Regions from separate parts of the Homo sapiens genome. Here region 2 is linked to region 1. Evidence: fine-mapped expression QTL. Tissue or cell type: putamen. Region 1 holds a variant in brackets; the other region holds the start of a gene. All regions are shown on one strand. Distances are between the middles of the regions.

Region 1 (2,831 bases):
TCCCAGGAGTCCCTAGGTTGGTGGGGGAGCCAGCTCCTGGCACTTCATAACTCTGGAAGGCAATGAAAGGAAGGAGTGTCTGGGAAGGCTTCTAAGAGAAAGTCACCGTTTCATCTTCCAGGCCTTGGTTGTGAGGGTGAGGAAGCTGAGGCCCACAGATGGGTAAAAACTGCTGCGGGTCTGTGGTGGCCAGTGGCCAGCAGGTTGGGAACGGGATACACACAGGGATCCCTGGGGTCAGGGTGAATCTCTTTCCTCCTGGTTCCCAAGGTTGGCACCAGCGGGTTGTCACAGCGGGTACGATGGGGGAACTCTGGTTGTGTCTGGGGAACAAGGCAGAGCCCCTATACCCCACCACAGAGCCTGGGTGCAGTCGGTGCTAGGGAGCTGAGGCAGGTGATTTCCTTTGTCTCTGCAGAATGTGGGGACACGCTTGGCCCAGGTCAGCCACAGGGATAGACCTCAATCTACACTTTGCTGTGCCCAGCTCTACTCCACACAGGTGCAGTGCCAGGCACTGGGCACTGCCATGCGTCACAGCCCAAGACTGTTCAATTACTATGGGGAGGATCCTGGGGCCACCAGGCCAAACCTCTTTAATCCCGCCCCACTTCAGCCAGTCCCACTTTGAAAACCACTGAGAGAGAGCTGAGAAAGGGCCTCTCAGCACAAGGCCAAGCACAGGCCAGGGCCCAGAGCACCATGACATGGGCAAGGCGCTCCCTGTCCCTGCACCCTGGCCCCTGGCCCCCACCTCCTGCTCCTCAGGCTGCCTCACCTCTCCCACTGTGGCTCTTGCTGTTCCCTCTGCCTGCACTGCCACCCCCCTCGGTGCACCCTCCTGAGTGAACCTCCCTCTTGGTGCCAGCCCCCCTCAGTGCACTCCCCCAGGTGCACCCCCCCGTGCAACCTGCCTGGGTGCATCCCCCAACTCTGTGCACCCCCCCTCCATGCCGCCCCCCTCAGTGCACCCCCCCTCCATGCCACCCCCCTTAATGCACCACCCCCTCCGTGCCACCCCCTCAGTGCACCCCCCTCCATTCCACCCCCCTCAGTGCAACCCCTCCAGGTGCACCCCCCTCAGTGCACCACCCCCTCTGTGCCACCCCCCTCAGTGCACCCCCCCTCCATGCCATCCCCCTCAGTGCACCCCCTCCAGGTGTACCCCCCTCAGTGCCATACCCACTCAGTGCCATCCCCCTAGCTGCCACCCCCCTCAGTGCAACCCCCTATTGGTGCACCCTTCCTCTTCTTTTCAGACTCCAGGAACCCCTACCCCCAACCCCAGTCTCCACTGTTCTGGGTGGGTCCTCACGGTACCTGGCACACACTTCGATCACAAGGCCTTGGACAGTAAATGACATCTCTGTCCGTCCCAGCCAGAACAGGGCCTAGTCTGACTTCTCACTGTGGCTCTGGCATCCAGCATGGAGCCAGTAACTAACAAAAGTGCCAGAAACTGCTGAATGAGTAAATGAAAAACTCACCAAGCCCTGAAACCAACTGTGGCCAGAACTCACTTCCAAAATCACTGAGCTCAGACCCTTCCCCCTCTACCCGGGTACCTCTTCAGCCCAGGTGCCTAGCCTCCCTCTCTTCTTGCCCTCCCCACCCCCATACACACCCAGTCTGCCAATGGGTGGCCTGCTGAGCCCACTTGGCCTGCTGAAATATTTTCCTT[G/A]GCTCGCGGAGTGGTTTTTAAAATTCTGAACTAGTCGCCAACACTTTGAATTGGGAGGTTGTACCTAACAGGCTGAGAAGGCGAGGACTGCAGTGTCTCGCCGTGTGCTGTATCCCCAGGGCAGGGCACGTGTCCGTGGTGAATGAGTGGATGGGGGGATTTTCTGCTTCTCTGAAGAATTGGAAGACCTGGCAACACAGGGTCTTTGTTCCCACCTAACTTGGGCCCAGGGGAACAGCCCCAGCCTGGGGCATCCCCTTCCCCCAGTCCCAGGCCCCATGGGCAGTCATTTGTGGCCCTGCTCTGTCGTCTCTCCTCATCAGGCTTGTCAACAATCTATGAAGGCCCAGCCCATATGCCAGCCCCTCCCACAAACAACTCTTCCGGTCTCCCTTGCTTACACACAGATACATCCTCTTTCTCTGTCCCTCCCAAGAACTCACAGAGTACCTTGCCTGGCACCAGCTATTTCTCTCTTGGTTTAAGGAATTGTGACCAATCAAGCAAGACCCAGTTTAGTTAAAGTCCCATCCACCTTACCACCATGTCTAATGTGTGCCAGGCACAGTGCTAGGCACAGGGGCTGAAGAGGGGCATCTAGGTCCAGCTGGTAAGACCCGAGTCTGGCTGGAAAGGCAGCCGTTGTGGGCTGCGGGATCTCTCCCCCAACCCTCAGTGTCCCACTGGCAGGCACTTACTTTCTTTGGGCACAAAGGGGATGAGACGGCTTCTGATCTTCACCTGAGCAGGCTGGATCTGACATTTGCCAGGTGGTGCCCGCCTGCCAACGACACACAGGAGGTTATGAGTCTCACCCTGGGAGCCCACCCTGAGGGTGCCTTTTCTCTACAGTGAGGCAGGTATGAACAGCAACGATAGTAACAGGCGGCCATTCACCATGCACCTACTGTGTGGCCTGCAGCTTCCCTGCCCACTCCATGCCCCCAGGATTCTAAGAGCTCCAGGGCATAAATCCCCTATAACAGCCTACCGGCTGCACGCTCAGCCTCTGCTGGAATAGCACCAGGGCTGGAGGCTTACTCTTTCCCAGGACATTTCTAATCCAGAGCATGGACTCTGTCCTCAGGGTGTGAACAAATGCCAGTCTCTCTCCTCCCACAGCCTGCCGTCTGATTCCTGAAATGCAGCC
Region 2 (2,664 bases), 28 kb after region 1:
AACTCCAACTCCAAGTCAGCCTTCTTGCCCTTCCCCACACCACCTGCCCCTGCTGGCCGAAGGCTGGGACACGGCCCTGGCCCCTGGGGCCTCTCCACCCCAGGCCTCTCACTGCCCAGATGCTGAGGCAGGAATGCCTTGGGGCTGCCCGTCCTGCTCCATTTCTGCATTCAGCCAGGCAACATTTGCCCACTTGGGTGTGGTCAGGCCCTGGGGCCTCAGACTCCCACAAGAGGAAAACAAATAGCGGTGGCACCACCAGGTGTGCACAGAAGCAGGGGCTCCACCCTCAGAGGGAAGATGGGGGGCCCAGGGGCTTCAACAAAGAGCTGTCGCTCAGTCTTGAGAGAGCTTCTGCAGGCCAGGGCGCCATCCCCAGGAGAGGGCACAGCACCCACAGAGGTGGTGGCGGAAGTGGCAAGGGCATCAGGATGGGGGTGAGACGCTCGTGGGGGACAGTGGCCCCAACCCCCTCAACAAACCCGGGCCACACGTTGACCACGCCCACGCCAGGGCCCCCTGCTTTCACTGCCCCGGGGACAACACAAAGGAGCACTGACCGGGACAGATGCCTCTCCACCTTGGTACCCCGACAAGGGTGCAGCTGCTCGGGGTGGGACGCTGAGGGGTCGACTCCAGGGGACTGGGGCAGAAGAGCCCCCAACCTCTGAGGAAATGATGACATCATCTGTCCGTCCGTCCGTCCTTCCTGCTTCAGGAGGGGAAACTGAGGCCCCGAGAAGGCCCAAGTCACAAAACTAATGAATGGCAAAGCCAAGAGTCGTCCTGGGATGCGCGGTCTCCCCGCCCCGTGCCAAATGACTCCCTGTTGGGGCTTAGAGTTCCCGAGTCCGCCGCCCACTCTTGGCCCTCGCCCCCGCGGGGTTCCGATCTCTGCTCCAGGACTCGGCCTCCCGCGCCCCGCCCCGCCCGGTGGCCGCGCGCCCGCTCACCTGGCACAGCAGGTCCCTCGCGTAGCCGGCGCACGCGGCCCACTCGGCGGCGTCCACGCGGCTCGCCAGGGCCCAGAAGCGGCGGGTCAGCTCGGCGTCGCGCCCCTCATCGCAGCAGCCGAAGTCCGAGTACTGCGCGCAGAGGCGCAGCGGCTGCGTCGGCCGGAAGGGCGGCCTGAAGTCCAGGCACTGCGGATGCGCGGCGGCCCCGAGCACCCAAAGCGCCAGCAGCGCCCCGGCCCTGGCCCGGGCCATCGCTACGCCCCGCGGGGGAAGAGGCGGAGGGACGGCAGCCCCGGTCCCCTCCCGGGGCGCTCGCGGCGGCAGGGAAGGGGCGGGCGCTCCCCTTCCCTACACGCAGGGCCTCGAGTTTGGGGACCTCCCCTTCTAGGAGGTCACCTCTGGTCGGGGACACTCGGCGGGACTGAAGGAAGAGGGACGCGGCGCAGAATGCGGCACGACCTCTTTTAACCGCTTTCCAAATTCGATGGGAGTGGCCCGGTCTGTTTAAAGCCCCGGTGTGTTTTCCCGGTTCCGCCTGGGGCCCTGCTTCCTCCCCACAGGGCGCTCTTTAGCCAGGGAGGCGCAGGGCCAGAGGCCTGGACTCCTGGGCTTCGGTTCCACCTCCCACTGGGCTAGGGAAACGGATGCCCGCAGCCCGTCCCCGAAAGCTCCCACGTAACATTTTAAAAATGGGGGTGCGAGGGAAAGAACAGGGGGTGTTGCCCCAGGACTCTCAGGGAGAAGTGAAACCTGGCGTAGGGGTGGGGAGGGAGGACGGAGCAGTCTCCGCAGTCCACCCTTTGCCCTTACTGTGGGCTTCTTCCCAGTCTCTGCTCCTGGGGCAGCGGATTCTCCTGCAGCCCAGGACCCACTGGGGCTCCCCACTTCCACTCTCGCATAGGGAGCACTGATGAATCTACCTCCTGGGATGGGCATCCAGCCCTTTGTTCCGCTGCCCCCGCTGGAGATTCAGACCCAACCCCGCCCCACCCCCCCACACACATACAGACGCACACACGCTGTCTTACCTACCCCAGAATCTCATGGCACCAAAACCACCCACACAGACAAACACACACACACTGTCTCACCTACCCTAGAATCTCACAGCACCAAAACCACCCAGGCATTTTTCTCAAGTGGACCTCAGCGTTTGCTTCTCCCTGGAGTGTCCTTCCCCATCTTCTCTGTCCAGTGAGCTCCTACTCCATCTTCATGGCCCCAACGCACACATCCGTCCTCTGCAGGTCTCTTTGGACTGTCCTGGGGGATCATGTTTCTGTCTTTGGGCCCATGCTCCTGGCAGAGCTGGGGGTGGATGAGATGCGGCAGGGCTGGAGCACTCAGAGGTCTGTGGCTCTGGCCTGAACAGGTGCAGTGTAAGAGTCAGGGTCTCCGCACAGCCAAACATCTCTGAGTATTTGAAACACGGGGAATTTAACGCAGGGACTTGAAGCCAAAGAGGCTAAGAAGCCATACAGGGCTCAGTGAAGTAACCTTGAGATCAGCAACAGTAGGAACAGTCCCCAGGTCCTTGATGCAGGAAGAGCAGATGTTACTGGAGCCAAGGAGCTATGGTCACCTTGTCAAAGCTGGACCCTCACAAGGCCTGTCTGGCCACAGCTGGAGATAGCCACTGTCAGAGATTCTGCACAGACAGAGGAGGAGAAATACCCCGGCTTCTCCCTGCCACTTCCCCTCCAACTCC

Alleles and levels. Positions count from the first base shown, and alleles are read on the strand shown. Sizes are in standard deviations (SD) of each study's normalised expression.
For the expression in putamen of the gene that starts at base 1,287 in region 2, A is the high allele of the variant in region 1 and G is the other (small effect, 0.20 SD a copy in GTEx).

What was found. PIP is the estimated chance that this variant, and not a neighbour inherited with it, causes the effect.
Region 2: it holds the start of HHIPL1, and the variant in region 1 is fine-mapped to the expression of HHIPL1 in putamen (GTEx, PIP 0.96).

The regions. Positions count from the first base shown.
Region 1 is chr14:99,671,948-99,674,778 of GRCh38, reverse strand. It overlaps HHIPL1 (HHIP like 1), which reads right to left. Exons shown (of 9, transcript NM_001127258.3): 8 at 2,380-2,462. Among named protein-coding and RNA genes, the nearest start is that of CYP46A1, 11 kb to the left of the region's middle. RefSeq lists an enhancer at 2,418-2,831. The variant G/A (reference allele first, on the strand shown) is at 1,682.
Region 2 is chr14:99,643,752-99,646,415 of GRCh38, reverse strand. It overlaps HHIPL1 (HHIP like 1), which reads right to left and starts at 1,287. Exons shown (of 9, transcript NM_001127258.3): 1 at 954-1,287. The coding sequence starts at 1,208.